Linked DNA regions of Homo sapiens. The protein of the gene in region 1 purifies or fractionates together with the protein of each later gene. This does not show direct contact. Each region holds a gene or a part of one and is shown in the gene's direction. Other genes may lie near its edges.

What was found.
Region 2: the proteins of TMPRSS5 (region 1) and CDC42SE2 purify together in Homo sapiens (affinity purification with mass spectrometry; 2 studies listed by BioGRID and IntAct, with this or other methods). This does not show direct contact.

The regions. Positions count from the first base shown.
Region 1 is NC_000011.10:113,679,586-113,696,325, reverse strand, and holds the end of TMPRSS5 (transmembrane protease serine 5), read left to right. Parts: intron 1-882; coding exon 883-926; intron 927-1,685; coding exon 1,686-1,848; intron 1,849-3,076; coding exon 3,077-3,255; intron 3,256-5,386; coding exon 5,387-5,485; intron 5,486-5,952; coding exon 5,953-6,095; intron 6,096-6,408; coding exon 6,409-6,561; intron 6,562-8,051; coding exon 8,052-8,066; 3' UTR 8,067-8,776; downstream 8,777-16,740. UniProt on the Homo sapiens protein: May play a role in hearing.
Region 2 is NC_000005.10:131,375,458-131,392,197, forward strand, and holds part of CDC42SE2 (CDC42 small effector protein 2), read left to right. Parts: intron 1-10,085; coding exon 10,086-10,187; intron 10,188-15,535; coding exon 15,536-15,634; 3' UTR 15,635-16,740. UniProt on the Homo sapiens protein: Probably involved in the organization of the actin cytoskeleton by acting downstream of CDC42, inducing actin filament assembly. Alters CDC42-induced cell shape changes.

The DNA.
Region 1 (16,740 bases):
GATGGTTTGGTATGACTGGGGCACAAGCGGAGAGGGTCTTTGTGCCTTCCTAGGCTTCCTCAATCTGCCTATCAGCCTCCTGGGATAGAAAGGTGGGCACCCCCATTACCACATTTCCAATTTGAACTGTTCCTTCAGGCCCCTCCTGTCCAGCTCCTGTGCTCAGGAATGTGGCTGGAGTTGGGAAGGTTCTGACAGGGTTCTTGTCTTGGATACCTGAATGGGAAAATGGAAGTAGGGGTGGGGCTGACTCCTCCAGGAGAGCCGGGAGGGCTATGGATTTGGGAAACTAGGAGAAACTAAGAGGGTCTAGACATTGGACTGCTAGGGGCAAGAGGTGAGTAAAGAAAGAGAAGAGAGTTTTGGTCAAAAAAGGAACTAAGAGCTAAGAGAGAAGAGGGGAAAGAGGAGAGCAAGAATATGAATATGCAAAGCCCAGGCAGAGGGACCAGGGTGGAGAATACAGCAAACCTAGGAAGGAGCATGGGGTGAAGAACCCTAGTCACCCACACACTCACCTATCCGTTCATTCATTCATTGAGTGTGTATTCATTCAGGACACTTAGTGGGAACAGTGTGGCTTTCTCATCTGTAAACACACTATGTCCCAGTTGATCTGCAAGGACCATGAAGTCCTTCTGTTGCCCTCTGGGAGACTAGGCAGGAGGTGTGCTCCTGTCCTGGGGACCACTGATGAGGAGGGGTCTGAGTGTTTGGGTGGGGGCAGGAAGGAAATGGTGGTATTCTTCAGGCTGTGGCTACATGACAGCCTTAAGAACTGTCCACCACCCCCACCAGCCTCCCCCATTCTTCACGTCCTTGGATGTGTGTGGCTGCAGGGCGGCCCCTGCCCAGCTTCTTGTTGGTACCTCTGTTTTGCAGGAACAACTGCACTTCTGGTCAAGTTGTTTCCCTCAGATGCTCTGGTGAGTCATATCTTGGTCTAGGGGAGGTGGCGGTGAGAGGAAGGGGTGTTCCCCCTGCCTCAAGTGTGGAAGAGCCCTATGGTGAGACTCTGCTGGGCCTGGGGTAGGGGTCTTGCCCACCTGCCCATCTGCCTGCCAGGCCCCTTCTTGCAGTTGCTGTTCTGCCCCAGCCGAACCCTTTCTAAGCCTCCATCATGTCCCTCACCAGCCACAGATCTGGGCTGATGATCTCCTTCCTTCACTACCTGCCACTCTCTTCCTTGGCCTCTGACACCAACTCCATCTTTCTTCTGGAAAGCCCCAGAGGTGAAATTATTATTGGCTATTGAGTGACCTGTTAGCAGCTTCAGGAAACTAAGGGCAGGTGGTGAATCAGGTACCAAACGGGAAGCAATCTGTGGAGTTCCTTTCATTGGTCTTCCCGTTCATCTACCCGTCTCTTCATCTGTCCATTCACACATCCTTCCACACACCAACACTTCGACCTTTACTACAGGACAGGCATTCTGTTAGGTACTAGGGCTCCATTAGTGCAGATACAGTTTCTGCTTTCAGTGGGCCCACAGCTGGATGGGGCAGGCAGGGGTGAAATCAACACTTCTACCTTCCCATCCCCCATACTTAGGACCAGGAATAAGAAAGGAGAGCTGTCCACACTGGCTCTCTGGGGCTTAGCACTGGGCCACGCTTCCTGAGAGTTAGGACCATGCTGACACTCACCTCTCTCTCTCTTTCTATCTCACCCATCTCTGTTGGCAGAGTGTGGAGCGAGGCCCCTGGCTTCCCGGATAGTTGGTGGGCAGTCTGTGGCTCCTGGGCGCTGGCCGTGGCAGGCCAGCGTGGCCCTGGGCTTCCGGCACACGTGTGGGGGCTCTGTGCTAGCGCCACGCTGGGTGGTGACTGCTGCACATTGTATGCACAGGCAAGTCTCTGTGGCTGCTGAGGACAGAGAGCCTCAGTTGCCCTTTCTGTTCGGCTGTTGGTATGTCCTGTATCAAATGTTCGTGTCCAACTGTCTCCAGCTTTTTGCTCCAAAAGGGTAAGACTGGTGTTTGTGAAGTTCTCTCATTCAGTATCAAGAACAGATCTGCACAAATAACAGTAATAATATGAAGATTTGTTCTTTATATTCATCAGTTTTTTTTTTTTTTTTTTGAGACAGAGTCTCACTTTGTTGCCCAGGCTGGAGTGCAGTGGCGCAATCTTGGCTCACTGCAACCTTCACCTCCTGGGTTCAAGCGATTCTTGTGCCTCAGCTGGGCACCACTATGTTCAGCTAATTTTTTGTATTTTTAGTAGAGATGGGGTTTCGCCATGTTGGCCTGGCTGGTCTCGAACTCCTGACCTCAGGTGATCTGCCTGCCTCAGCCTCCCAAAGTGCTGGGATAACAGGCGTGAGCCACCGTGCCTGGCCTCATTAGCTTTTAAGTGTTAAAAATACTTTCACATTCACAGTATCCTGTGTTTCTTCAGGCTTATCTTTGGTTCAATCATTTTCCATGTAATTATTTGGTTAATATGTTTCTTCCCCTTTAGATGGGAAGCTCTGCAGGAGCAGGGACTCTCAGTCTTATTTACCACTAAATCTCTTTGTAGATTTATCCACTGCTGTGTCCCCAGGGTCTAGAACAGTCCCTGGAATATAGTAGGTGCTTAATAAATATGACTTGGAGGAATGAATGAATGATGAGTGAATGAGCTCTTTGATCTTCTCTTGGTGCCGGACAGGGCAGAGAGTGTAATCCCCATTTTACCGAGGCTGAGAGGGAGAAGTGCCTCTCCCATGATCACACACAGTAAGTTGAGAGATGGGACCAGGGGAAGTTTTTCCAACACAAGGCCCTCTATGTGTTTGTTATAAAACTTGGAGGGAAGTTATGCAGGAAAGAGGGAGTGGTGGTTGCAGATGACCCATAGTCTTCTCTATCCATCAGTCCTGCAGCATTTATTAAGCACCTACTGCATGCCCAGTGTCTTGCCGGCTGCTGGGGTGATACTAAGAGGCATAGTCTGTGGGGCCTGGGAGCTCACCGCCTGCTGACGGCCCCCCCACCAATGGCTGCTCTGGCCAGCTTCCTCCACCTGCTACCTTGCTTAGGAACACCTCTTCTGCCCCTTCCTTCCCCGCTCAGCATGGCCCCTGTGTGCAGTTTCAGGCTGGCCCGCCTGTCCAGCTGGCGGGTTCATGCGGGGCTGGTCAGCCACAGTGCCGTCAGGCCCCACCAAGGGGCTCTGGTGGAGAGGATTATCCCACACCCCCTCTACAGTGCCCAGAATCATGACTACGACGTCGCCCTCCTGAGGCTCCAGACCGCTCTCAACTTCTCAGGTGCGGCACTGGCTTGAGGGTGGGCAGGCTGGAGACTATGGCGAGAGAGGGCGGGGGCTGGGTGGGAGAGTGGTGAGCTGATTTCTGAAGTTTCCTCTGAACACTGTAAACCTTAAAACATTCTATTTATTTTGGGACTAGTGAATTTTGGCATCATCTGGTTCTGAAATTGTTATCAACTCTTGTACAGGCTCTTTTGGGAAAAGAGGTTCAGACCCATTTCATGGCTAGGGGGCAGGTGGGCTTTGCCTTGAGGTCTGAAGCAGCTGCCCCATCCACCAATAGGCTGCTCCACCCCTGTCCCCAGGCTAGCCTCGGGTCCTAGCCATTTGGTGCCATGTTACAGTTTATGAGATACATTTTTTCAAATATCTTCTCTTTCAGTCCTCGTAACAACCCTGATAGATAGTTGAAACAGGTAGATACAGACAAGAGCACTGCAGTGCAGGGAGGGAAGCAACTCTCTTCAAGGTCATGTGGCAAACAGTTCCTAAGCCTGATGCCAGGGCTCCTCCTGCTGCTGCACCTGCCCGTGAGCCCAGGCTGGAGCTATACCAGCAGCCACTCTCCCCGACACACACGTGCATGTGGGCATTCACCTACAAACACACACACACATGCACTCACACAGTCATGTGCACATAGACTCACACGTGAGCATTCACACATGCTCACATGTACGTGCTCACATGAACACACTTGCGCACACACACCACACACACAAACATGCACACTGTACACACACATATACGTTCACATATACTTAACACTCCTTCCTCCCGTCATTACCTGTAGCCTTAAGTTTCCCAAATAACAGTCATTGCCATACACATTTCACAAATTGTATCACATACGTGAACTATCGTTCAACAGATATTTCTAAGGCTGGGCATGGCGGCTCACGCCTGTAATCCCAGCACTTTGGGAGGGTGAGGTGGGCAGATCATTTGAGGTCAGGAGTTCAAGGCCAGCCTGGCCAACATGGTGAAACCCCGTCTCTACTAAAAATACAAAAATGAGCTGGGTGTGGTAGCTCATGCCTGTAGTCCCAGCTACTCGGGAGGCTGAGGCAGGAGGATCACTTGAACCTGGGAGGCAGAGATTGCAGTGAGCTGAGATCATGCCACTGCACTCCAGCCTGGGTGACAAAGCAAGACTCCGTCTCAAAAAAAAAAAAAGAAAAAAAAGGAAAAGAAAACTTTCTTAGTTGACCGAAATAAGTGTATTTAAAAGAAAAATACGACTATATTAGTATCTAAGTAGTAGATACTACATGAGTATCTACTGTAGTAGTATTTCTCTTTTAAATATACTTATTTAGTTATAATAAATAGTATATTTACTATATAGTATAGTAAGTAAATAGCATATTTACTATTTAAATATACAAAATAGGTATAGTAAATAGATAATAATTAGTATCTCTAGTTAGAGAACCTATATTACTTACCTAACTAGAGAACCTATGTTACTTATAATAAATAGATCCTAACCACAAAAATATGTAGCATGAAAAGAAATCAGTGTGGAAGTTCTAGGTAGCTGAGTCCGCTGCAGAAGTTGCTGCACCTGGGCGTGCTGTCTCCTGTTTGGTGGGAGGACGGCAGGCAGTAAGAAAGGCACAGACCAGCACCAAATGAAGTCTTTCTCTGTGATGCGGTTAGAGGGACTGAAAGAGAATTGAAAAGGACATGGCGTTCTCCCCAAGTGAATGCTTTACTCAATAGTGTGCCTATGTACTACCTAAAATCATGCATGGCTGCACCCATGGGATATGTCACGTTTTTGGAAACACTGTCCTCATTAGAAGTTGGGTGCCCATGGCCTGAAAGAATTTTCACCCCCACTCCATCCCCAGGTGTGGGGAGGGGGCAGCATGGGTCCTGTCCACCCATAGAGGGCGCCATGCACACTGCAGTTTGCATGCTGTCCTCTGTGACAGGGGACCCCAAAGATGGGACAGTGCCCCACTTGCATAGCCATCTAGGAGGCCTGGCTGGTGGAACCCAGGAGCCAGGACTGTTTGAGAAGGGGGCTGAGGAGGACTTGCCAGTCCTGGGTCCTTCGCCCAGGCTCTGCAGTGGGGGAAGCCAAGCCTGACTGGGGACCAGGACCATGTGCCTCTCTACAGACACTGTGGGCGCTGTGTGCCTGCCGGCCAAGGAACAGCATTTTCCGAAGGGCTCGCGGTGCTGGGTGTCTGGCTGGGGCCACACCCACCCTAGCCATAGTGAGTCAGCTCCCTGGGCCCTCGGTGCAGGGGCGGGTGTGGGAGGCATTCTTCCCCAGGGTGAGGCAAGGCCACATCCCCTGGCCACATGACAGTGCCAGCCCTGTTTTTCCCTGGCATCACCCTTGGTCAGGCCTAGGGTCTCCAGTCTCCCCTGCTTGGGCCTTTCTGGGGAGAACATCTACTGCAAGTTTTCCCTAAACCCAGACCCTTTTACTCCCCCTCCCCTTGTCCCAGGAGCGCCATGGTCTCACATTTGGTGTATGTGTGAGTCCTCCTGCTCTTCCCACTCCCAGCCCCCAAGTCCGATAGCCTACTGCTTCCTTGCTCAGCGTCCACAGCTCCCACCCTGGGCTCGCCTCTTTGGGTCTCCCTGTCTCTGGGACTTCGAATTACCTCCCCTCTTGCTGCTCTGCCTGCCTGGGCCTTGCTTTGTGCCCTGCAGTTTTTCTCGGTGTCTCTCATAGCTTACAGCTCGGATATGCTCCAGGACACGGTGGTGCCCTTGTTCAGCACTCAGCTCTGCAACAGCTCTTGCGTGTACAGCGGAGCCCTCACCCCCCGCATGCTTTGCGCTGGCTACCTGGACGGAAGGGCTGATGCATGCCAGGTGTGGCCTGTGGTGGCTGGGGTGAGGGTGGGAGTGGAGGTGGGGGTGGGAGGGCAGGGGGCCTGCTGTGACTTGGCCCCCTGCCCTGGTCTGAGCTTGTCAGTGGTGTGAGACAGCCTCTCTAGAAGGAGGGGCACCTAGGCAAGTCTGGAGCTCATGCTAAGGGTTTAAGGAGGGGTGAGGCCAGCAGATATCTCAGCTAGAAGCAGGCGGGGCCCAGTAAGGAGATTCCACTTGCCATAGTGGTCTGGTGCTCTCCATCAGGAAGAACTAACTGGCTGTTTCTCTGTGTCTCCATGCCTGGATCCCTTAGGGAGATAGCGGGGGCCCCCTAGTGTGCCCAGATGGGGACACATGGCGCCTAGTGGGGGTGGTCAGCTGGGGGCGTGGCTGCGCAGAGCCCAATCACCCAGGTGTCTACGCCAAGGTAGCTGAGTTTCTGGACTGGATCCATGACACTGCTCAGGTGAGTGTGGGGGCAGGAGTAGGGCAGGGAGATTTCTAAAGGACCTGCCCTCGAATGCAAGGAACCTTACCCCTTAGGCCCGGGCCCTGCTGGGGACTGGGGAGGGTGCTAGGACATATTCCCCAGAGTGAGTGGAGGAAGAAGTGAAGCTTAAACATGGAATCCATTGGATTTCTATCAGTTTAAGGATGAACTGGGTAAGAGTATGCCTGAGTTTGTATCCCAGATCTACCATTTCCTGTGTCGACCTTTGGCAAATTTCTAACTTTGTTAAACCTTAATTTCCTGATAATAACCATGATGGCTACTTATATGCTATTGTTATATGCTATTAAATAAGACCCGTACAATGCCTAGCACAGTGCTAGGCTTAGAGTGAGTGATCTGCAGTGTTTTTTGTTTTTTTTTGAGATGGAGTTTTGCTCTTGTTGCCCAGGCAGGAGTACAATGGTGCAATCTCAGCTCACTGCAACCTCTATCTCCCGGGTTCAAGCGATTTTCCTGCCTCAGCCTCCCAAGTAGCTGGGATTACAGGCATGCACCACCACGCCTGGCTAATTTTTTGTATTTAGTAGAGATGGGTTTCACCATGTTGGTCAGGCTGGTCTTGAACTCCTGAGCTCAGGTGATCCACCAGCCTTGGCCTCCCAAAGTGCTGGGATTACAGGCATGCACCACTGTGCCCGGCCTATCGTGTTATTTATGTGTATATCTGTTACCATCATTCATCCCTGGTCTCTAAGGCAGTTACTAGTGGCCACATTCCCTGCACTGTGGAGAGAGCTCAGCATTTAGCAGTTCGGGTTCTGCACCTACGTAAATTGTGTGACTCCGGGCAAGCCACTCTCCTTCATCTGTTCAATGGGAAGGCCAAGTGAGATAATGTGTATAAAAACACATTACTGGTCGGGTGGGGTGGCTCACGCCTGTAATCCTAGCACTTTGGGCGGCCGAGGTGGGCGGATCACGAGGTCAGGAGTTCGAGACCAGCCTGACCAACATGGTGAAACCCTGTCTATACTAAAAATACAAAAGTTAGCTGGGCATGGTGGCACGCACCCAGCTACTTGGGAGGTTGAGGCAGGAGAATCGCTTAAACCTGGGAGGCGGAGGTTCCAGTGAGCTGAGATCGTGCCACTGCACTCCAGGCTGGGCGACAGAGCAGGACTCTGTCTCAAAAACAAAACAAAACAAAAACATTATTTACCTAAAGTATTTTACAAATTTAGGGCATGATCATGAAAAGCATCTTCCTCTAAGGTTGGGCAGGGGTGGGGGTTGGTAGATAATACATTCGGAGTTTACAGGGAATGTATGTATTGATCTTCTCAAAGAAATCTTACAAAAAATCTTGAGCAGCAGATATTTTTAGCCTCATTTGATAGAAGTGAAAATCAAGGCCCTGCATGGTTAAGTGATTTACTAAAATAAAAGTCGCTTGGCTAGTGTAGAGCCATGCTGTGAATCAGTTCCTTTCCCTTTTGGTCTAGGACTCCCTCCTCTGAGTCCTGCTGTTTCCTCCAGTCTCACTGCACACCACTGCCTCATGCTTCCTGGGGCCTCCAGCAGCTCCACTAATGGAGGAGAGGCAGTAGCCTCCGACACAGAACGCATGGACCTCCTACTACTGTGTGTGAGGAACAGTCACTACCCACTGGCCAGCCACCCAGCCAACAGGTCTCTCCTCTTGGGCCCTGATTTCAGAGTCCTCTTTCTCACTAGAGACTCAATGACAGAAGAGAGGCTGGGACTTGGTTGGGCATGCTGTGGTTGCTGAGGGATGAGGGGGAGGAGAGAGGTAGGAGCTGGAGATGAAGAGGCTGCTAGAAGCAGCAGGAAGCCTGCCCTTCTGCCCTCTCCCCTCCCTGCCCCTGTGTGAGTCTTTTGGGAGGGTGCTGGGAGGTGCCCCCCGTCCCACCTTTTTCCTGTGCTCTAGGTGGGCTAAGTGCCTCCCTAGAGGACTCCATGGCTGAGAGGCTCCTGGGCAGATGGGGTCAAGGCTGGGCCAGCCCAGATGAAGCCTATGGGAGTCAGGACCCTCTCCACTCTCCCTCTCCACTCCCCTTCCTGTTCTCACCTGGCTGTGGCTGGCCCTGTGTGGGGTGGGTACACTGGAAAACAAGAAGGTTGGAGTTGGTCTAGGACATTGGTTTTAAATGACAGTTCTGTGAACTGGTCCAAGGAGTTCTGTTATTAAAGTGATATATGGTCTTGGTCCAGTTTTCTCTGTCTCCTCTCTCTCACTCGCACAAAGACAGACAGACAGACAGACAGACACAAACACATATTACAGGGTAGAATTACAATTTTCCTTCTATCTTCTATACATATTGAAGCTTTGGTGCTGACTCCTGTTCATCTACTTGAGAATTTTGGTTTGTGCTTATTTGTTTTGCCCAGGCTGGAGTGCAGTGGCACCATCTCTGCTCACTGCAGCCTCGATGTTGTGGGCTCAGTGCCTGCCACCTCAACCTCTCTGGTAGCTGGGACTACAGGTGCATGCCACCACACACGGCTAATTCTTCTTTTGTATCTTTTGTAGAAATGGGGTTTGTTTAATTCTTTAAATTTGTTAAATCTATATGTTGGCTGGGCGCGGTGGCTCACCCCTGTAATCCCAGCACTTTGGGAGGCCGAGGCCGGCAGATCACGAGGTCAGGAGATCGAGACCATCCTGGCTAACACAGTGAAACCCCATCTGTACTAAAAATACAAAAAATTAGCCAGGCATGGTGGCGGGCGCCTTGTAGTCCCAGCTACTCGGGAGGCTGAGGCAGGAGAATGGCGTGAACCTGGGAGGCAGAGATGGCAGTGAGCCGAGCCGCACTCCAGCCTGGGTGACAGAGTGAGACTCTGTCTCAAAAAAAAAAAAAAAAAAATCTACATGTCATGATCTGCAATGAAAAGCCTTAGCCATCCAGGTGCTCTGAGATCTTGAGTCTGAGAAGCACTTAAGTCAATGCTCTCTTGGGAAGGTCTGGTTTCCCTGCAAGGCCCATCTCTCCTTCTCTCTCCCCTTTTTTTTTTTTTTTTTTTTTTTTTGAGACGAAGTCTTGCTCTGTCACTCAGGCCGGAGTGCAGTGGTGCCATCTTGGCTCACTGCAACCTCTGCCTCCCGGGTTCAGGCAATTCTCCTGCCTCAGCCTCCCGAGCAGCGGGGATTACAGGCATACTGCAGCCACCATGCCTGGTTAATTTTTTGTATTTTTAGTACAGACGGGATTTCACCACGTTGGCCAGGCTGGTCTCGAACTCCTGACCTCAGGTGATCCATCTGCCTCGCCCTCCCAAAGTGCTGGTATTACAGGTGTGAGCCACCGCACCTGGACCCATCTCTCCTTCTTAGCTCTTGTTTTGGAACTGGGCCTTTGACTTGGCCTCTCTTTTTGAGTTTTATGCCCAGTTAGCATTTCCTTGGGTAAGCCTCTCCCCAACTCTCTCCTCTCTAGCAGTTAAAATGTGACTGGCATCTTCTTTCTAAAAACTGCAGTGAATTTTTTATGGTGCTTACCCAAGGAAATGCAACTAGTGTTTAGCAATAACAGAACTTTGTGAGTTTATCAGCATATTTTTTGAGGAGTTGTACAAATGATTACTCATTTCTAGAGGGTCTGCTCCCTTTACATGAAGTGCACTAGAAAATGAAGGTTTCAATTTACTGCCAGTTTATTAACCAGGGAAGTAGTTGCTGGGAGTCTGCTGTCAAACTGTAGAAGCAACGTGGGAGAAGTTCTGCTGAATGGCAAAATAGCCTCGCCCTGTGTCCCTGGAGGTCAGACCTTCAGCCTCTACCCTGGGATCAACATTTACTGCCCAGCTCCCTTAAGTCCCTGCCTCAGGAGGCACTGATGGGGTAGTAGATCCCCCTGGGCAGGGATAAGTTAACAGCAAATCCAGCAGCTGTGATCTTTTTTGTGTTTCTGATGTCAATCATAATCATTTGCATATTTAAAGGGAAGTTTAAAAAAATTACAGCCATCAAGGTCTTTCAATACTCAGTAACATTTGAATAGTGTTTTACAGTTTAGAAAACATGCCCATATGTGGGAGCTCACAAATCTATGTGGTGCAGATGTTATTATTATTGTCCTCATTTTCCAGATAAGAAAATTAATTCAGAGAGATTAAGTGACTCCCCCAAGACCACCCAGCTGGTAAGCACTAGAGCCAGGATGTCAACCGTGGGTCTTTTTACTCTAAATCCACATTACTGTCATGCACATGAATGAATGAGATGGTCCAGTATTGCACAGAAGAATAGAATTGGAAGGTACTTGCTCAGGTCACCTGGTGTAAGTCACCTGCTTATAGTAATGCCTTGGCACACCTACCTTTTTTTTTTTTTTTTTGAGACAATCTTACTCTGTCACCCAGGCTAGAGTGCAGTGGCATGATCTTGGTTCACTGCAATTTCTGCCTCCCAGGTTCAAGCGATTCTCATGCCTCAGCCTCCTGAGTGGCTGGGACTACAGGTGTGCACCACCAAGCCTGGCTAATTTTTTTTGTACTTTTTTTTTTAGTAGAGATGGGGTTTCGCCATGTTGGCCAGGCTGGTCTTGAATTCCTGGCCTCAAGCGATCCACCTGCCTTGGTCTCCCAAAGTGCTGGGATTACAGCCGTGAGCCACCACACCCGGCCTCCCACACCTACTTTTTTATAGATGAAGGAACCAAAACCCAGGAATTTAAGAGGCTCCTGCCAAAGACCCTTCTCAACAATATTCTTAGAAATTTTCAGTTCTCCCTGAGATTCACGGTCTTGACTAAAACTTACAAATGAATATCTCCTATAGGAGAGCTATAAAGGGTACCCTAATTAGAGAATTTGCTAATAAAGATTCCTTGCTTACCTATACAGAAGTTCTTGTTCTCTTTGGCCAGGCTACCAGTCAGATCTGCAGATGCAGAATCTCTCACTTTCCTTATTAGCATCTGCCAGTCCAGCTCTTTGGAAAGGGAAGGGAAGCGAGTGGCCTGGCCAGCTCCGTTCCCCTGAGCCTGCTCCTGGAATGAAGGGGTGGAGGTGGGGCCAGGAAGGTTGGGAAGATTCGGGTTCAGAAGGGCCTTAATGAGGACCAGCTGGGTTCCCAGCTATCTTAAGCTCTGTAGGGAATTCGGAGGTAGAAAAGCCGACTGTCTTATTGGAGAAATGAGACTTATTTGCAATAAATTACTAGTAGCCAGCCAGGCAGAGAGCTGAGTGGGGAGGTAGTAATTGCTCAGGGAGTTCCAAGAGCCTGTTGTTACAGAAGTCAGAGTAATTCTGTATGTGGGAAACCTCTGCCTTCCTCCGGTAGGATTCAGCATCCCACCTGCTTGGGCAGAGCTTTCGAGCCTCCTGAGATGTTCCAAGAGGGTCATTCCTGGCTGCCATGATGGGTGCAGATCCCTTCCCTCTTCTTCTGTGTGCTTGTGGGGTCTCAAGGATGCTAGAGGGTTCAGCATCCCTCTAGCATCAGATTCAGGTTCTCCCCTCCTGACACCTTCTGTGGAGTCGTGCTTTTCCTAAAAGGGTTTCTGGGAACAAGGGGCGGCCCTGCCATTCCTCAGGAACATTTCTCAGGCTCTTTCTTATATTTTCTTTTTGGAGGTGCTTGGCTCACCCACAATAGGACAAAACTGGAAATGCTATAAATGCTTAGAACTGGTTTGGTAGCTGTCAGATGTTTTCCCAAGTCCCTCTGATGCTTCTTCTCTCCTCTCTACTCTGCCGTCTCCTGGCCATGCTCTCAGGACCCTCTTGCTGCTCCACAGCTACTCAAAGGAAAACCTACCTTCACCTGCCCCCACTTTCCAGTCCAGCATCCTGGGCCTGAGCCCCATCTATACCTCCCTAGCAGACATGCTGCAGTGAACACTCAGGGTGTGCCGCACCCTCAGGACTCTGTTTCCTACTAAACTAATCAGAGCCAGGTGTTGTTAATGACTTTTTCAACTGTGTGTTAAATCCCTCCACCTCTAGGCAGGTTCGTAAGGAAGTAGGTAGGCAGCAGCTTCCTACTCCTGAGGGCTGAGGCTGGTCTCTCTCATACATTCAAGGCTGGGAAAGAGAGAGGCCAAGCAGGCCTGCCTGCTCGGAGTCTCCCCAGGGTGGAGCACTCCAGGGGGATCTGTGGAGGCTTTCACCTGGAGGTGGTGCTGGAGGGAACCAAGCTGGGGAATCAAACAGAATGGAGAGAGAAATCGTGGCTGCAGAGGCACAGAGTCCTTGCTACTTAGCCTCTCCCAGAACAGCACGTGGGCTCCAGGAAGGCAGAGACTTGCAAAAGGCTGGCATCATCTCGGAGCTTTCTCCCTTCCAAGGAACCTCTGGCTGTGACATCTGATAGTAGGAAACAATGGTTCTAGATGCAGAGTCCCATCACATCCCACGTGGGAATGTGCTGCTCGAGCAGGTGACTCAGTCTCCCTGGATTTTGGTCTCTCATCTGTCAACTTAGAAGTCTGGGCAAGATGGTCTCCACGGGATCTGCCTTGTTAGACCAGCTTTAACTCAAACTTCTTTTGCCTCTTGAGATGTCTGCCCACCACTTCCAGTTTGGATAACCTTTAGGAGCAGCCTGTTCCCTGGGACAGATCTACAGAAGTCAGCTTGCTATAGCTTCACAGCACTGCAAGGCTGCCGTCCCTGGGAGCCCTCTGGGTCCATGGGAGCAATAGAAACTGGGCAAAAGACTTGGAAGGCAGCTTTCGCCATGTTGCTGTACCTAGCATTTGTACCCTGGGCAAGGATTCAAGGAAAGGTTGAGCCCCTCAATCTGGCAGTTTTTTAGGTGCTCTCCAGCTCACTTTCTGATACCCCAGGCTCTGTCTGAAGCCTCATGGGCCCCAGCTCCGCAAAGGCAGCCAAAGGAATTTCCTCTCTACCACGAAGACCGTGAACGCTTTCCTTCTTTCTGTTTTCCTTGACAGCTCCTAAGCTGGCCATGAGGACCCACTCCTTCCTCCAGCCTTTCTTCATGCCTAGAATAGTGAGGAAAGTTGTGGGTTAGCAGAACCGCTAGAAAACATCTGGGATCCAAACCCTGCTCTGGACCCAGCCACATGCCAGGCTCAGGGAGGGAGGATCGGTTTTCCCACAGCCCCTCTGTTAGGGTGACCCATCTTCCAAGTTGGCCCAGGACTGTCCTGGTTTTAGCACTGAAAAGCTTATGTCCTGGGAAACTTTTCAGTCCTGGACAAACTAGGACAGTGGCTCACCCTAAGTCTAATGCATCTCTTCTGTATAAATGGAGTTCTGCAAAATTCAGTGCATCCCCGAATCCTACTATCCTTCCTCAGTTTGAGGAAGCACTCCCTGGTGCACAGAGTTGGAGGAGGAAGGTCCTGGGAATTCTCAAGGTCTGAACTGTTTTGCAAAGGCTGTGACACCAGCAGATGCTGCCTTGCCCTGGAGGCCCTTAAGGAGAGAGCCCCTCCTTCCTCAGGGCCTGCAGCTTCCCTGGTTGCCACTTCCCTGTGGTAGCTTCTGAGCCTGCAGCCAGGGCAGCCCTCCCTCACCTTACCTAATGTTTTGCGCAAACAGCCTGGCCCTCCTAGGCCCAGAACTTCTCTGGCAATTTGCGGGAGGCTAGGAAGGTGAGTCAGGTGTAGTGTTACTCCGGCAAGCCATGCATATCGATGTCCCAGTTTCCCCTGGTCACTCTGATTTCTGGTTCCTAGAGCCCGGTGCGGGCTCAGCATGTTATAGGTGCTGGCTTCGAGTGGTTGAGCCCACTCAGGAGGAGGAAGAGAAGGGCCTGCCGCCCGTACGGGAGCTGGATGGGCTTCTTCTCCTGGCCTCTGCCTTCCAAAGATCATCAGAGAGGAGCAAAGAAGAGACTGCCAGACTGCCAGAGCCCACAGGGATTTTGTGGGGTTTGTTTTTCCTCAGCAGTCCCTGCAGAGGTGAGGACATGAATAAAAGAATGAGGGAAGATTTATTGTTCTCACTTCTTGGCAGTGAGCCTGTATTTGTATAGTGGATCCAGGAGGGGGCTGGAACAGTTGAGAGGACTGCTGAGGCCCAGGCAGAAAGTCAGACCTTGCAAAGTTTTCTGGAGGGACCCAGGTGGGTGGTGGAGGGCGAAGGTGAGGCTGGGAGGAGTGGATTTAGACCAACTCCTCCCCAACCATCAGGGGCCAGAGTGTCCCCACCAGCCACCAGCCTTTTCCCACATGAGGTGGGACAGTGAACAAAGTTTTGGGCTAGCAGAACCATCGGCAGGCAGCTGGGGTCCAAGTATCTCCAAACCCAGCGGCACATGGTGGGCCCGACAGGGTGTGTTACCAGTGAGGATCCCAGAAGAAAGGGCTCCAGCTGAGCTCGTCTGTCACTCCTGCTCCTGATAATGGACGCAATCCAGAAATAACTTTTATCACGGCCTAGCCTGCCTGGGTGGGCCTGGGTGGTGGCTGAGACTTGGAACCTTGCAGCTGAAGATGACATTGCAGGTATGTTACCCCTGCATGTGTGTCTAAGGCTGTACAGCCCATGTTTTGGTGACATTGTACTGTCCCTGGGGCCACCAAAAGATGGGCCTCAATTTGCATGATGTCAATCCTAATGGGTCAAAACTGGTGGCGGAAGGTAGCAGGAGAGTGGAAAGCCTGGGGGCTTGGGAGGCTCTGAGAGATCACAGGATCCATGTGCATGCGTGTATGTTGATTTTGTGGGAAGCTTGAAGGGCCTGAAGGAAGTGGAGAAAGGGAGGGACTCGAACTTCTGACCTAAAATGATCCGCTTGCCTCGGCCTCCCAATGTGCTGGGATTATAGATGTGTCACTGTGCTCGACTGAAGGGAGGAAGTGTAAGGACGCCGAGGTAAGACTCTGCAGAGCTGCTCCCCTAATTGTGAGAGGGACAGATCTGATTCTAGCCACTTTCCATGTGCAGGGCCCCACCATGTTTAGCTGCCTCCTTCAATGGACAATGTCAGGGAAATTCTCTTGCAAATGACCATGCTTCATCCTCAGCAAAAATGGCTCATCCTTCGTGAGTGACCATGTTAAGCCTATCCCCTCATACACATGCTTACATACCACCTGGACACTTTACCTGGCAGGCAGGATCATAAATCCGACAAAGAATTCATTGCAATGGTCCTATACAAGCAATAGAGACCTATAGTAGTAGGTGTGTGTGTAGGGGTCATTTCTCCACAGAGTCTTCTGACGTTTGGGTCATCCTCTCTCAAGACTCCTCCAGGCTCACATTTATGGGGTCCAGACAAGAGTGTGGATAGAGGCCCGTATACCACATGTCTAAATAGTTCAGAGTAATACATCACCCTAACACACTGTTAAACTAAAAACGTTCTATCTTCCTACCATAAAAAATAGACCATATAAAAATATGGAAGGTCAGATCCAAATTTTGAATCCTTGAATTTTTGGATTCTGTCCTGGAGCTTGGTTGATGAAGAGAGTAGGCTTCTGGCCACCTTTTCTCCCCACGCCCTCAGCTAAGGGCTGTCTGCACAGCCGTGCAGACACTCCATCCTGCTTAGGGGTATGCCCAGCAGGGGTACCTGTGCAGCCTCTGGAAGCGGGCTCAGGGACCTTGGGAATTTCAGGATCTAGAGAGAGAGAGACGCAGGTCTGGGTAGGCACAGGACGTCAACATTGCAAATTCTCCCCTTACGGTGGGTCTGGTCAAAGAAGGGCCAGGACAGCAGGGCTGGGACTAGGGTGAGGCAGGTGACGTGCCTCAGTGCAAAATTGAAGGAGGCATCACTCTCAGGGTCATACAAAGGCAGGCTGGCTCCTGCCTCACTCTGGTCTTGGCCCTGCGGGGGGCGGGCCCTCTAAAGTGAGCAGCCCGGAGCAGGAAGGGCTTCTCCCATCTGGTCTCCATGGGTATTGATGGTTACTCCTAACCGTTGGAGTGAGACAAAAAGGCAAGATGACAGAAACAGACCTCTCTCCTGTGAGTCCCTACTTCCCTAAAGCACTGTAAAGCATCCCCTGATTACATTTCAGGGAGCTCCACGTCCGCATCAGCCCAGCCACCATGGTGGTCCCTGGGCTCATTCTCTGCGGAAAAGTACCCAGAGTGATTCATTATCATCCCCACTCACATAGCCTCCTAGAAATTAATGTCGATAAACACCAAAAAAAACTCTAGTGTACAAATACACCGTACTCCAGAACTCTCGCAGGGCAGACTTCAGTGAAAACTAAGGTAAGCCAAAGCTAATTA
Region 2 (16,740 bases), on another chromosome or scaffold:
TAGATAATTCTCTGCTTATAATACTAGCTGGTTTTGGTTTCTCTGTGGTGATCTATGGTGTGACTCTCATCTCCTCTGGAGAGAGCTCCTTATATAAGCTCTGTCACCTGAGGGCCACTGCTGGCATTCCAGTGAGTGAGCTAAGCTCTAGAAGCCAGACAAGTAGAATTATTTTTCCCACCGTAGAAGATACAGTACAAGTTCATGTATAGAAGAAGTTTATTATTTTCTCAAGTTTTGACCTAAGTATGAGAATTTGGAATCCAAAGTAGGCTATTCAGTTATTGAAGAGCAGATATTTTTCCAGTCTCTGCAGTATCTAAAACCTTGTTTCTCTTTCATTTGTCCCTTAACATATTAGAGATTTTTTTGTCATATTCTTAGAAACTAGACTTCCACAGGCAGTTTTATCAACTCAGATTACCACCCATGGGAAGGCTGAATTCAGCTTCTTTAACATGAATATCCAGGACCTGGACACTGTTAAGACTCCCATCTTGGCCAGGCATGGTGGCTCATGCCTGTAATCTCAGCACTTTAGGAGGCCAAGGTGGGTGGATTAGTTGAGGTCAGGAGTTCGAGACCAGCCTGACCAACATGGTGAAACCCATCTTTACTAAAAATACAAAAAATTAGATGGGCATGGTGGTGCATGCCTGTAATTCCAGCTACTCGGGAGGCTGAGACACGAGAATCGCTTGAACCCAGGAGGCGGAGGTTGCAGTGAGCTGAGATTGCACCACCGCACTCCAACCTGGGTGACGAATGACTCTTGTCTCAAAAAAAAAAACAAAAAACCTTTATTCAATAGAGAGTACAAAGGTGAACAAATGAGGACTTCTGAGCAGTGGCTGAGACAAGAAGTGAGAGTTTGCCAGAGGATCCCAGATTTGAAGGGAAGGTAAAATGTCATATACTGCTATAGAAGGTACTAGCAAATGAGTTCATGGCTTTAAAGTTCTTGGAACTGTGCCTGGTATCTTATAAGTACTCTTTATTACCCACTTTTACTTTTTAAATATTCAGCTGTTAATCTTTATTTTTTAATTTACCTTTGAGGTTCAGGGGGTACATGTGTAGGTTTATTATATAGGTAAACTGAGTCACAGATTACCTGCTGTACAGATAATTTCATCACCCAGGTAATAGGCATAGTAACCATTAGGTCGTTTTTTGATCCTCTCCCTCCTCCCACCCTCTACTCTCAGATGGGTCCTGGTATCTGTTGTTGCCTTCTTTGTGACCATGTGTACTCAATGTAGCTCCCACTTACAAGTGAGAACATGTGGTATTATGTTCCTGTGTTAGTCTGCTTAGGATGATGGCCTCCAGCTCCATCCATGTTGCTCCAAAGGACATGGTCTAGTTCTTTTTTATGGTTGTGTGGTATTCCATGGTGTATATGTACCACGTTTTCTTTATCCAGTCTACCACTGATGGGCATTTAGGTTGATGCCATGACTTTGCGATTGTGAATAGTGCTGTGATGAACATATGTGTACATGTGTCTTTATGGTAGAATGATTTATATTACTTTGGGTATATACTCAGTAAGGGGGTCCTGGGTCAAATGATACTTCTGTTTTTCACTTCTTTGAGAAATTGCCATACTGCTTTCCACAATGGCTAAACTAATTTACATTCCCACCAGCAGTATATAAGTGTTCCCTTTTCTCTGCAGCCTCACCAGCATCTATTATTATTTGACTATATGTAATTTTTTTTTTTTTTTTTGAGACAGAGTCTCTCTCTGTTGCCCAGGCTGGAGTGATGTGATCTTGACTCACTGCAACGTCTGCCTCCCGGGTTCAAACGATTATTGTGTCTCAGCCTCTCGAGTAGTTGGGACTACAGGGGTGTGCCACCACACCTGGCTAATTTTTTGTATTTTTGTAGAGATGGTGTTTCGCCATGTTGCCCAGGCTGGTCTCGAACTCCTGAGCTCAGGCAGTCCGCCCGCCTCAGCCTCCCAAAGTGCTAGGCTTACAGGCGTGAGCCACCACGCCTGGCCTGACTTTTTAATAATAGTCATTCAGCTGTTAATCTTTAGAGCCAGTGTTTTCTATTAACCATTAAGCCATCAATATCACTTGGAATCTTGTTAGATATGCAAATTGAAGCTCCACTCCAAACTTGCTCAATCTGAAAATCTTCTGTGACTAGAGCTCAGAAACCTGTATTTTAACAAACCTTCCAGGGATTCTGATGTACACTGTAGCTTGAGAACCACTGCTTTACAGGTTCTACCCAATATAAAAACTAAAACAGTGTTACCAGTTAAAACCTCTCTAGAGCACACAGCATTTCTATGAAAGAGAGAAAATTAAATCAGCAGATAAGTATTTTTTATGCAGAAATGTAGACTTCATTAGAATTGGCATTACATTGTTTACATCTTCCAAATATAATAGGTTCTTGAGAAATATTTGGCGATAATATTAGATAAGACAAACAATTTTTAGAGAACTGAGCTGACATTGTTTCTTTAAAAAAGCCTTTTATTCATTCAACAGTCATTTATTGTCTACTGTGTGTCAGGCACAGCTACTGTTACAGAACTCTTAGTAGTGTAGGAAAATCAAACTGTAAGCAAGTAAGTTACAATACAATGTTTTAAGTACTATAATTGAATATGAGCCATGTGCTGTGAATGTTCAGAACAGGAAATATCCAACAGCCTCAACTCGGAATGTTTATGTTTGAGCTGGGTCTCAAAGAATGAGTAGGGAGAGACTTGGGGCAAGGGTGTTTCATATAGTTTGTTGACATTACTACCATAAAAGGTATTTTCATTTTTTGTGTCAATGAATATCCACTAGGAAGATCATTTTCATCAAAAAATGTCAAATCCATTTTTTATATTATTACAACTTTTGTTAGCCTTTTTTTCCATACTGTGAACTAGATTGATTAACTTGGAAGCAGCTCACGCACCCAGGGAATCACTGTCACTGGCATCATAGAAAAAAAATACCCACTTGTTTTAGAAATGCCTGGTTCCTAATTACACTGTCAATATTTCAAAAAACTAATGTAGCTTATTTCAGAGGTTCCCAAACTTCTCTTAACGGTTCTGTAATTTTTTTCATGGTGCCTCTAGGCCAAGAGAAATACCGTACAGACTTGTTTATTAACTAATTTGGTACAAACAACTTAGTAAAGATTTATGTCCCAACAACTTATTTGCCTTTAAAAAATAAGATATAAATTGAAAAATATTTTTATTTAATTCTTAAATAACCAGTTACATACTTATGGTGTGTTTGTGCCTGTTGGGATTATACAACTTCTCAAACTGTGGAATCAGACTGAACACCACCACCTTCTTTTCTAGTTCCATACTGACTTTTGCATAGTGCTTGGGTTTTTTTCACAGTAACCACTGAAAACTCAGCTTCACAAAGATATGCTGTTAAAAAGAATGTATGTTCTAATGTTGAAGTTACAAATTATCTGAAGCTGGTAGTTCACTCAGTGTCAAACACACATTGAGCCTCACTGTGTTTCCCTCAAATAGAAAACCCTGGCACCCCTGGGTTTTGCTGGGATGCCCCAAGACACAATTTGGAAATAGTGGGCTTGTTAGATTTAATTCATAGATTTAGGGATTTAGTTACACAACTCAACTGACTTTCTCTAGGTCATAAAGTTGAGTCAGCATAGCTTTCAACCTTTCATTTACTTTGGCCACATTTGCATAAATGATTGCTATTTTATACCCTGAAAGTTCCAGCTTTTTTCACTGTCCCAGATGGCAAGTATTTTCATTTTCTTTATTCACTCTGTATCTGCTTCTAGAACTACCTCAGGCTGTACCATCTTTTACTCTTACTGTAGGCCTTCTGCTAACCTGATGGGACCTGGCCTTCATTTGCTTCTCAGTGACATGTGTTTGCACACTAAGCTGCCCAGAGAATAGTCTTTGGGAAAGTTTTAACTTTTAAGTGATGATGTAATTACTGTTTTCTAGAAGCTACAGTTGATCCATATGCCAGAAATGTGAGGGAGGTAGATATAGTATGGTTATATACATATTGTTTAGATAAGGATGCAAATAAGGTTCTCACAGTAGCAAATCCTTTGAAATTAACCTGCTTCTCGCCTCCTTGGATATACTCCAAATTGTTTAGTTCATTATCTTTAATAATTATGATGTAATTATGTAAAAAGTTATGGGAAGAGACATTTTGCCTAATGTCCCCTCCACACTAACATAGCAGTTCATTTGGGTCTCTAGTCCTTCACCTTATGCAGAATAAAAGTTAATATTTTAAGGATGCAAGGATTATTCAGATGGTTGACGGTCTTAACAAAGTTTCCTATAAAGAATTTGTTTCCAGGAAACACGGTGACTCTGCTAACGACAACTGTTAATACGTATCAGAGCAGAGTGCACCATTTCCTGTTTTTCTTTGCGGAGGTCTGACTCTGGAATTCCCCTTGTTTGCCCATGACTATTCTTTTTTTTTCTTTTGAAACAGAGTCTCACTCTGGCACCCAGGCTGGAGTGCAGTGGTGTGATCTCGGCTCACTGCAACCTCTCCCCGCCAACCCCCCACCCCAGGTTCAAGTGATTCTTCTGCCTCAGCCTCTCAAGTAGCTGGGATTACAGGTGCCTGCCACCATGCCCAGCTAATTTTTTTTTCTTAAAGAAAATATTTAATTTTCCATAGTTATTGGGGCTACAGGTGGTGTTTGGTTACATGAGTAAGTTCTTTAGTGGTGATTTGTGGATTTTGGTGTACTCATCACCCGAGCAGTGTACACTGCACCATATTTGTAGTCTTTTATAAAACCCTTGCCCCCCTCCCACTCTTCCAGAGCCCCAAGTCCATTTGATCATTCTTATGGCCTAATTTTTGTATTTTTAGTGGAGACAGGGTTTCGCCATGTTGGCCAGGCTGGTCTTGAACTCCTGACCTCAAGTGATCCACCTGCCTCAGCCTCCTGAAGTGCTGGGATTATAGGCATGAGTCACCATGCCCAGCCACCCGTGACTATTATACAGTACCCCAAACAAGTGTGCCATTCTTTAAATGTCCACATTGTGCCTTAAAATACTGCATTTTTATAGTTTAGAATATTTATTTATATTTAAATCCAGGTTTTTGATAGAGTGTTGTAGGAAAGAGTGTAAAGAACACTTCCACCTGTGTCTAGATCCACCTTTCCTGCCTTCTCAGGAACCTTGTAAGGTTGACAATCCATTTTCTTTTTCCTTCTTTTTCTGTACCTCTTTTACTGGATCTTTCCCATTAGAAATTGAGCATAATGAATTCTCTGCCATCTTACAGGGGAAAAATTCAATCTGTTCTCATCTCCTTTTCTCCTTTCAGCCACTGACCTGTCTTCTTCCTGTCCAGAAGGCCAGACTTTTCTCCAGAGTTGTCTCTGTTCTCTTTCTCCATTTTCCACTTCTTAGACCCACCTCAGTCCCCTGCAGCGTGTCTTCTCCTCCTATTACTCCACTGACATAGCACTCACTAAGGTGCCCATTGACTTGATATTGCTGAATCCATTGCACGTATTTGTCTTTAATTGACCTCTCACCACCTTTCAGCTCTGCTCCCTCTTGACACTTGTACACACTGCTGATTTTCCTACTGACTTTCAGGCTGTTTCTTTTTGGCCTTCTTTGATGGCTTCTTCTCTGCCCAACCACAGAAATTTAGTTTGTCTAGGAAATCTCATTAACTTGGCTTTGTTAATGCTGGTGATTCTCAGTCTCTTATCTCCAGTTTGGATTCTCTCAGAACCCAGTGAATTGCACACTCTCTGCTGAAATCTGAAGTCTGTGCATATTTCTTAACTCCTCCCTCTCACTGTTACCAAATCCAGCCTGCAACCAAGTGCTGTTTTTTTTTGTTTTTTTTTTTGTTTTTTTGAGAGAAGTCTCGCTCTTGTCCCCCAGGCCTGAGTGCAATGGCTCGATCTCGGCTCACTGCAACCTCCGCCTCCTGGGTTCAAACGATTCTCCTGTCTCTGCCTCCCAAGTAGCTGGGATTAAGGCACCTGCTACCACGCCTGGCTAATTTTTGTATTTTTGGTAGAGACGGGGTTTCACTGTGTTGGCCAGGCTGGTCTCGAACTCTTGACCTCAGGTGATCCACCCGCCTCGGCCTCCCAAAGTGCTGGGATTACAGGCGTGAGCCACCACATCCGGCCCAAATGCTGTTGATTTTATCCACTGACTACTTCTTGAATCTATCCACTTCTATCTGTGTTATTAGTTGAATCCACATAATCCCTTTTCACCAACATTAATAACTTATTTTGACCTCTTCTAACATGTTTTCCACCTATAGCTATTGTGGAATAGTCTTCTCAAGCTATTTAATCATGTTATTCCTCTGCTTTAAAACACTTTCAATTATTTCCCATTGTTCTTGGGAGGATCACACACTTCAGTCCTTTACAAACTCTATGTGATCTGGTTCTTGCTTATCTTACTATTTTCATCTTAGGTGTTTACCTTTACTATGCTCGCACAACACAGTTGCTCCTTTCAGTTTCTGGACAGCTGAGTTCCCTCAGCCTTGGGGAGCGAAGGACTGAAAGCTTCTTTCATATCTCACAAACTGTTAGATTAGATGCCATGAAGAAACCTTCCAATACTAAGGTGTGACTCCCAGCTCAGTATAGTTCAAGCTGAAAAATACTCACTATTATTTTCACATTCATATATATTAGTTATCTAATAACACAGTATGATAGAAGTAAGCTGAAGTCTTCCCATCCTTTGCTTTTCAGTGTCAGAGTAGCTTCTTGGGAACTAGTTTTGTTATCAGCTTTTGAATATTCTCAGTAATCATGTTTGCTGAATTATTGTTTGTGAGTATGTGTTAATACCCTTCTTTCACAAGCATATCTATTCATTCTTTTTGGGTGAGATGGGTGGTGGCCTGAGCACACTATGGTTTCTGTTCTCCCCCAACACAGTCCTGCAGTAACTCAACAGAATAAATCACTTAATATGGAGGTATAGACCAAGTGGAGCCTTTTGGCAAGCTCTAAACACACCCTTCTGGAGGAAATGATGCAGAATGAGAACTGTTAGGAGTTGCTTCTGCAGGTTCACAGGACAAGGGTTGATCAAGACTCCTCCTAGTGGTCTGGAAGTAGGTACCAGGAAGTATTCTCTGGTACCACCTCCTCCCCTGCTTGAGAGAGCCAAGTGGCTCTCTCTGCATATCAGAAGCAGTTATCTTGACATGTTTACTGCAAACGCCTGGGGAAGAGTCTGGTGTCCTGCAGATGCCACTGTCCTGTGGAACTGTGACAAGAACCTAGAAGCTTCCCTCTCTACCTGTCAGTTAAGTGGCTCACTGGGGAAGAAATCCCAATAATTTGTCCTGCCCACATGCTGAGAAAATTCGTATCCTGTGATGGTAAAGATTACATTTCTGGACCTGCCCAAATAGCTTCCTAATAAGGAAATTTAGTGGAAATGTAATAATATATTATTAAGAAGAGAAAAAGGCACAAAACTGTTAACATCTTTTTTCCCTACTTTATTCCTAAAAAAGATAAGTTAGCATTGTTTAAGGCTAATTCATAGAATTATGCTTTATCATTCCAAACAAAAATAGTATGAAGAGAAGTATGTTGAATGGGGTGGTTGGAAATAGACAAACTGAGTCTGTGAAAAAGATGGGGAACAGAGGAAAAGACCAGTGCATTGCTGGCATGCAGCACTCCAGATCAAAGGATGGTTGTGGGTGTCAAGTCTGCCATTAGGGGCAGGGAGTCTTTGTATGAGGCACCTCTAAGATCATCAGAGGGAGCAGTATGCGAGAAAAAGATAGCAGGAAACCAGTGCATTGTGCTAGGAAATAGAAAAATTAAAACACATAGACAAAAGCCTCTTTTGACTTTATGATACCATTTTAACCTGCAAGTTTTATGATTCTGTGGAACAGGGCCCCAAAAGACAGACAGTTTCTTACCAACTTTCAAAAAAAGGCTTGAAGTAAAACTAAAGTTGTTCAAATAAAGAAATGAGAGTTCTTTGTTCCCTAGTGTTATAGACTTATAATTTATATAGTTAAGTGTTTTTAGGGAAAAGAGTGAAAAACTATAATAATACAACTTTTTCAGAGATTAAAAAATGTTGCAATGACATGTCATAACAGCCTCTGAAAAATAACCATAATGGAAAAAATGAAATTATGTGGCTACTACTGAAAAAATCTAGAGCTGGGGTCAGCAGACTACTACTTTTACAGGCTAAATCTAGCCTGTCACCTGTTTTTGTAAATAAATTTTTACCATAACACAGCTATACTCATTTAATTTCATGTGCTCTGCAGCTGCTTTCATGCTACAATAGCAGAGTTGAGTCAAAGCTACAGTGGAGATTGTATTTGGCCTGCAAGGTTATAATATTTACTATCTAGCTTGGACCTCTGAAGAGGATAAAGCAGAGTTACTTTTCAATGCAGTGAAATTATAAAGAGAAATAAAGGATGAAAATATAAGAAACTTGGAAGATTATAGACACACACATGTTCAAATGTCCACATAGGCAGGAACTCCAGAAATAGCAAAATGAACACATGGAGCAATTATCAAGGAACTAACAGAATAAAACTTTTCTAAGATACAGAAAACCTGTGTTCAGATAACCGTGTGCCACGCAGAATTACTGGAAGGAAAACCCAACAAACTTGGAGATGGTCTAATGTCATTGCTGAATTCTAAGGATGAATAACATAAATATTTCAAAGGAAAAGCGTCAGGGTTTTTTGTGGTTGTTGTTTCTATCTATGACAATATAAACGAGAGGACAGTAAAACAATGTATATGGACTTCTAAAATATATGCATGGGCTCGCCACTTTTGTGGTTTTGTAGAAAGTCATGTTTTCACCCTGAGGAGCTGTCATATGGGACTCTCGTGATAAAATTTTAGGGTTTATCAGGATCATGCCAGCGTTTCAGTAGATAAGGACATAAAAGTGTTATGTTCAAAGGCAGCTAATCCAGCAAGTTTGTAACTCTGCTTGGTTTTGAGGGAAGCTGCAATTTCAGGAGAAGTATACTATTGACAGTAAACTGGGATAAGCAGAGCCCCATAGTAGGACACTAACCCAACGTGGCCAGTGGTCTCTCCCAATAACATTATCATATCTAAGGGATCATGGAAAACAGGACAGATCTAAGATAATCTTCATATCTGGAAAACTCTTAGATAATCAGTGAAACACAGCAGTACAGTCAGGAAATATCTCTAAGGGGTAGATGAGCATATTGGTCAGAACAGGGACACCAGCTGGTGGCTAAAGTTACTGGAAAATGGGGCTCAGCACCCCATGAGAAGTGCTTTTCAAAAATTAGGAAGAGTCAGCCAGGCGTAGTGGTGCGTGCCTGTAATCCCAGCTACTTGGGAGCTGAGGTGCGAGGATTGCTTGAGCCCAGTTAAAAGACCAGCCTGGGTAACATAGCAAGACTCCATCTCAAAAAAAAAAAAAAAAAAAAAATTAAGAAGAGTGAGTAAGACCCAGCCTAGTTAGTCAACAGGTTTAGTTCCCAGCTAGAACAGACCAGAGAAGAGTGAATGGACTAGGACCAAATCTGTCACCCTCTCACCCTCCCACCTCCACCCCCTCCAGCTGAAATGACAGATTCATTTTAGCATAGAAAGGTAATTGGGTATAATCTGAATAATAACCATCAAAATATAATACATCTGTTAATGATGAAAGCCAGAAAGTAATGTTTAAAATCAGACAGTGTATTCAAACCACTGTGTTCTTTGCCAACAATAATAGTGACTGAGGGTAATTTTACATTTGTCTCGTTTTTTAAAAAGAATAAAACTTAAGCAGTTATTAAATATGTGGATGACCAAAGCTAGACCAAATAATCTATTAAGCTCTAAATAATAACCTGTTATTTTGCTTTACTAATCATTTTTGTGCATATATTTGTCTTGGGGATTTCATCATAAGAAGTAATTGTGGCAGTCTAAGAGCTAGGCATTTTTGTGTTCTTGGCAAATTTATTAAACAGTCATAGTATAAAAATCCATCAGAATAAGTTGCTCATAAGATCACTTTCTCAACACATTTGTTCCCCATATTTTAGAAAAGGCGACGGCGGATTGACAGAAGTATGATTGGAGAGCCCACAAACTTTGTGCATACAGCTCATGTTGGATCAGGAGACCTGTTCAGTGGAATGAATTCAGTAAGTATGTTGGTGGGACATGCAGGTAGGGCATTGGGGCATAGTCATATGAAACCTGTGTGACAGGCACAAGCATTTTTAATAGCATTATGCTAAATGAATTTGTGTACAGTGAATGTAAATACATAATATGAGCATAGAAGAGAGAAGCAAACTACTGATGAAAAATTAATCTCTTTGAATTTCCTGGATTAGGTATTTGTTTCTGTTTCTTGTACGCAACTCTTCATAGCTGCCTTTGTCCCGAATAAATACTTTGAAACTTGAAAGGATTTGAGTTCAGAATGGAGGTTAATATCCTATTGATTCTCTTGCTCCCACCAAAGAGACTTGGATATCAGCCTTTTTAATAATAATCTCTTTTTGTTCTTTTAAGTTCAGTTAGTTGCCTTTTGCACACATTTTTATTGCTTTACTTTATAAACCAGTGGTCTCCAACCTTTTTGGCACCAGGGACCAGTTTCGTGGAAGACAGTTTTTCCATGGGGGAAATGGTTTTGGGATGAAACTGTTCTACCACAGTTCATCAGGCATTAGATTCTCATAAGGAGTCCACAACCAAATCCTTGCATGTGCAGTTCGCAATAGGGTTTGTGCTCCTATGAGAATCCCATGCCATCACTGATGTGACAGGAGGCAGAGCTCAGGCGGTGATGCTCACTTGCAGCTGCTCACCTCCTGTTGTGCAGCCCGGTTCCTAACAGGCCACTTCTGGTTTTGGGACCCCTGTTATAAACTATTCATCTTTACCTGGTAATATTAGAATGTTGGTGATTTATTTACTCTAAGTTCTCATGCACTAAGCATAGGATTAGAATTTTCACATATCCCTTTAGGGCAAGGCAGTAAAAATTTGTCACATTTGCCAGTAGGATGTGAAGAACCAGAAATAAGATTTATTCGCTGTCTTTTAATAGAGGTTTCAGTGAGTTTCAGAATAGGCTTTAGATCTACTCAGCTGACCTTTTAGTCCTTAATTTTTGTTGAAGAGAAAACCAGAATGCATTATAATAGAAGCAGCACCAAATGCGGGTTCTTATCAGAGTTGTTCCTCACATTTGCCTTAAAGCAGGCCACTGAGTTTCAACAGACTGACTCTTTTCCCCATGCCTAAAGTAAACAAGTATAAATGATCCCTAAAGTGTTCAAAACCAGAAAGGATTTTATAAACATAAAATTATGATCCACTGTATACCAACTTACTAGACAGCATTAACAAAAGACTTAACAGGGACTTTAAAAATAGGTAGATGGGTATCCTGGATACAGCAACGACGTTTGTCACTGCAGTTACTAGGTAAGCAAAGGAATGACATTTGAACCTTGCCGGAAAGGAAACAGCTTGTTTGTTTTAAATCCGTAGGAAAAGTACTTTGTTTCACTTGACTGCTTTGTGGAAATGCAAGAGGTATCATGTTGCTGTCAAAACAGTCAGTAGTTTTGTTTCCTGCATCAACATAGAGTGAAAAGACTAAATGAGGCCCTATTACTTTTATTAATATGGTTACTATAATAAAGAGAATGGGTAGTTTCAAATTTGTTATATATGATGAATTTTAATTTCTCTCTCATCAACAGATGTTGTCTCTGCCACCTCAGATTTTTAAAAAATCCAACTATAAGGCCAGGCACGGTGGCTCACGCCTGTAATCCCAGTACTTTGGGAGGCTGAGGCAGGTGGATCATCTGAGCTCAGGATTTCAAGACCAGCCTGAGCAATGTAGTGAAACCCTGTCTCTACCAAAAATACAAAAAAATTAGCTGAGTGAAGTAATGTGCACCTGTGGTTCCAGCTGTTTGGGAGGCTGAGCGGGGAGGACTGCTTGAACCTGGGAGGGGGGAGGTTGCAGTGAGCTGAGATCATGCCTCTGAACTCCAGCCTGGGTGACAGAGTGAAACCCCATCTTAAAAAAATAAATCCAACCGTATAGGAGGAATTAAATTTTAGTTCGTGGCATTTAAAATCTTATGTACATTTCGGAATTTCCTTTAAGATTCCTCCTTGAATGAAAAACCTGTCATTGGCTTACTATTTTTTTGCTTCTCATAGTTTAGGTAGAACTTTAGGACTGTACTTTGCAGGGCTTGCACACCTGCCTCTTAATCTTAGATGCAGGATTGAGATGGGACTTTAGCTGTGGTAGAGTTTCTACCTTGCTGTCTCCAGGCAGCCTTCTCTGCTACTGAAGTGGACTTTTTATGAAGTATTTCAGCCCTTTAGAGCTAAATGTGCTTCCCAAATGTGTTCTATAGTTATTTCGTATTTGAGTTTGCTATCTCTAAAGCAATATTCAGCATCCATCCCACTGTCACAGAGCACTGTGTTCTTGCTGCTAGGAATGGTGTTGTTCAATTAGTAACTTTTTTTTTTGAGACAGAGTCTCGCTCTGTCACCCAGGCTGGAGTGCAGTGGTGCAATCTCAGCTCACTGCAACGTCTGCCTCCTAGGTTCAAGCAATCCTGTCTCAGCCTCCTGAGTAACTGGGATTACAGGCTCCTGCCACCATGCCTGGCTAATTTTTTGTATTTTTAGTAGAGCGGGGTTTCACCATGTTGGCGAGGCTGGTCTCAAACTCCGGACCTCCGGTGATCCACCCACCTCGGCCTCCCAAAGTGTTGGGATTACAGCCATGAGCCACCACGCCTGGCTGAGTAACTTTTCTTGAAAGTATCATTGATAGTACTGATTTGATGAGCCTGACTCTGTGAGAAAAATTATGTTCTCCTATGCAATGCAATAATAAATAAGAAGAAACCATAAATAGACATGCTGTTTATTCAAATAAAAGAACTGAGCAGCTAGTATTAGGAATGTGGCTTGACGCATATGAAACAGGCTTGCCTAAACTATATTATTGAATGGTTAGATGACTTGTAATTTCTTTTTTCTTCTAAATATATTATTCTTCTACCTTTACTTAGTGTAAAAGACTCTTTTCTACTACCCTCTTTCCAGAAAAGATTTCCGTTACCCGTTCAGTAATACAACCTTGCGTTAAAATATTGTATATTCACAGTCACAATAATACATTGTCTCAACACTGAAAGATTACTTATTAAAGTTACTTAATAAAGGTTACTTAAGATAAACCAAATCTTTTAAATTGAAGAATTGACTTTTGGAGAAAAATACTTTTTTTTTCTTAGAATCTGCTTGGCATTATTGAATGCACAATGTAAAAACAAACAAAGATTTTGTGTTTGGTTGGTTTTGGGCTTTTTTGATGCAGAGTCTCATTCTGTTGCCCAGGCTGGAGTGCTTACTGCAGCCTTGACCGCCTAGGCTCAATCGATCATCCTGCCTCAGCCTCCCCCAGTAGCTGGGACTACAGGCCTGCACCACCATGCCCAGCTAGTTTTTGTATTTTTTTTGTAGAGATGGGGTTTCGCTATGTTTTCCAGGCTGGTCTCAAACTCCTGGGCTCAAGTTATCTGCCTACTTCGAACTCCCATAGTGTTGGGATTACAGCTGTGAGCCACTGTACCTGGTCATAAAGATGTTTTTTAAGCCAGGCCTAAAATATCTATAAAAGCTAACATGCCATGTTAAGTGGAAAATTACTTGGTATCAGGTTTGTGCCACATAACTTAATGTTAGTTACCATAAAGGGGAAGATGACGAATTTGAACTGGTATCATATGACAGGCCCTAGCCTCTTCACACTGCATTAACTGAGCAAGTTTATGTTTAAAAAACAAACAAACAAAAATATAGATTTCTTCTTACACTCTTACCTGAAGGTAGTCATTTTATTAATCTGACTATTATAGCAATACCTTATAATGTGATGTCATACGAATAAGATGTTCCATGTAAGTAAATTTCCAGGTTAGTAAAAATGTCCCCATTTAAGAGCAAAACACATTTTCTCATTAAGACTCTCTTGATCTAAATAAGCTATGCATTTTCTGTTTTGCCATTATGTTCTTTTACAGTATATATTGAAACCTGACTTACTCAAAAAATGAGTTAGACAAGTCTTACTTTAAATATATTGACTCAGAATCACCAGTGGAAAGCACCTCACCCTTCATGCCTTATGTTACAGTAGGTGCTCAGTAAGTATTTGATAAGCAGGTGACTGATAAATAGATGATGCCCCGGTTCCTTCCAAATTGTGGAAGTGTGCAGGGCCCTTTGAGCTGATTCCATGAAATAAATACTCGACCACATTGCTAGTGCTCTCTCTCCACTAGTTAGGCCATCACCTCCAAAATCATATTGCTTGTGTTCCTTCTTCTAGCAGTCTAGCCTGACTCTCCAATTCTCTGCTTCCAGACTGCTTCTAATTTATATGAACTAAGACTGGAATAATAATGATATGCTAAAAGTACTTCACAGTTTGCAAATGACTTTATGTGCCTTTGTTTCAGCAAAAAGAAAATATCCCAATTTTCATATATCTTGCACTCTATCAGGAAACAGCCCTGCAATGTGGTCGGGAGAGATTACCATCTTAACCCTTTTACAGATAAGAAGCCTGATACTCAGAGAGGATAAATAGTTTACCCAGTTACAATATTAATAAATAAACTGGGACTATATCTGTCTTTGGATTCTTTGATTCTTTTTTATCAGGCTATATTAACATGGTACATTTTTTGACACAGACTTTTAAGATTTATCTTTGGTTGGTCCAATTTTATTCATGCTTATTTTCTTGGTTTTGATTCTTTACTAAGTAATTGAGGTGATTATATATGTGAGATATCTGTAAATTAAGATACTTGAGGTTGAGAAACAAAGTGGAGTTGATCGGCCGGGTGCGGTGGCTCATGCCTGTAATCGCAGCACTTTGGGAGGCCGAAGCAGTCGGATCACTTGAGGTCAGGAGTTCAAGACCAGCCTGGCCAACATGGTGAAACCTAAAAATAGAAAAATTAGCTGAGTGTGGTGATGTGTGCCTGTAATCCCAGCTACTAGGGAGGCTGAGGCAGGAGAATCATTTGAACCTGGGAGGTGGAGGTTGCAGTGAGCTGAGATGACGCCAGTGCACTCCAGCCTGGGCAACAGAGCGAGACTGTCTTAAAAAAAAAGAAAGTGGAGTTGATCTATATATTTTTGACCATTTTTCAAATGTTACCAAGTGCCTTGTGAATTACAAAACTGACTTTTGTAATTTGGAAATAGAGAAAATAGGGGTTTTTGCAAAAAATGTTTCAGTTGCTAGCCTCCCTGTTTGTCCTTATAACTAGAAAATTGTTTGTCTATAAAAAAATTTTTGTCTATAAAAGTACCCTTCTGAAAAAAGCAGCCCAAATAAAATTCTGGGAAAAGAATTACTTAGTTGCACCGGACCTACTTCCTGACTTCCATTTTGTTTTGTTGTATTTTTGTCTTGTTTTAGGTTAGCTCCATTCAGAACCAAATGCAGTCCAAGGGAGGTTATGGAGGTGGAATGCCTGCCAATGTCCAGATGCAGCTCGTGGATACGAAGGCGGGATAGCCCTGGTCCTTTCTCCAGTGAGTACTCAGAGCTGGGGTCTGGACCTGACGGCCAGACATGGCCAGGCCAATAATAGTAAATATATGTATATATATATAATTTTTTAATGGTGAACTTATTGGGAAAGGCAAAATTACTCAGCTAAGTGTAGTTTCTGCACTTGGAATGTAAGTTTTAGGTTCTTTTCCTTATTAAGAACTTTAAATACTTTAAAACATCTGGTTGGGGAGGATTCTGATGACAAGATGCTTCTTATGTGTCCTTTAAACAAGAGTGAAATCATTATTTTGAGTATTGAGGCCGAGCATGGTGGCTCACACCTGTAATCCCAGCACTTTGGGAGGCCTAGGTGGGCTGATCACCTGAGGCCAGGAATTGGAGACTAGCCTGGCCAACATGGTGAAACCCCATCTCTACTAAAAATACAAAAATTAGCTGGGCATGGTGGCGCATGCCTGTAATCGCAGCTACTCAGGAGGCTGAGGCACGAGAATTGCTTGAACCTGGGAGGCAGGGGTTGCAGTCAGCTGAGAATGCGCCACTGCGCTCCAGCCTGGGTGACAGAGCAAGACCCTGTCTCAAAAAAGTACTGATACTAAAGATAATCTCTTGGGTAGTAATTTTACAGTTAAGACTTCATTGTTTATAAACTTTTCAAATTAATTAAAAAGACTACTTTGAAAAAGGATAAACCCTGAAAATGTAGAAATAATTTCAAGTTTTTTTTTGTTTTATAGGGTTATTGTGAATTTCTATATTTTCTCTGTCCACTATTCTGTAATTTTTTTTTGTCCTGTGATTGCTTTTATTTTGAATTACAAAAAAGAAGTGTGATGGCACCTTGTCCACCCTGTCGTGATTATTCCAGTGAGATGTTACTGTTCTGCTCTGAAGAAGATACTGTCAGACGAATCCTGCATTTCCTTCAGCTGGCATGCATGCCTTTGGACTCATGGACAGAGTTCTTTGGATTGTCACTGAATTTTCAATGTTTAATCAGTATGGATCTGATCTTCGCATGATCTTTTTTGTGAATGCTAACACCATTTTGCAGTTTTTTTTTTCTATTTTAAACATTTTTCTTTTCACTGCCGACCCCCTGCCTT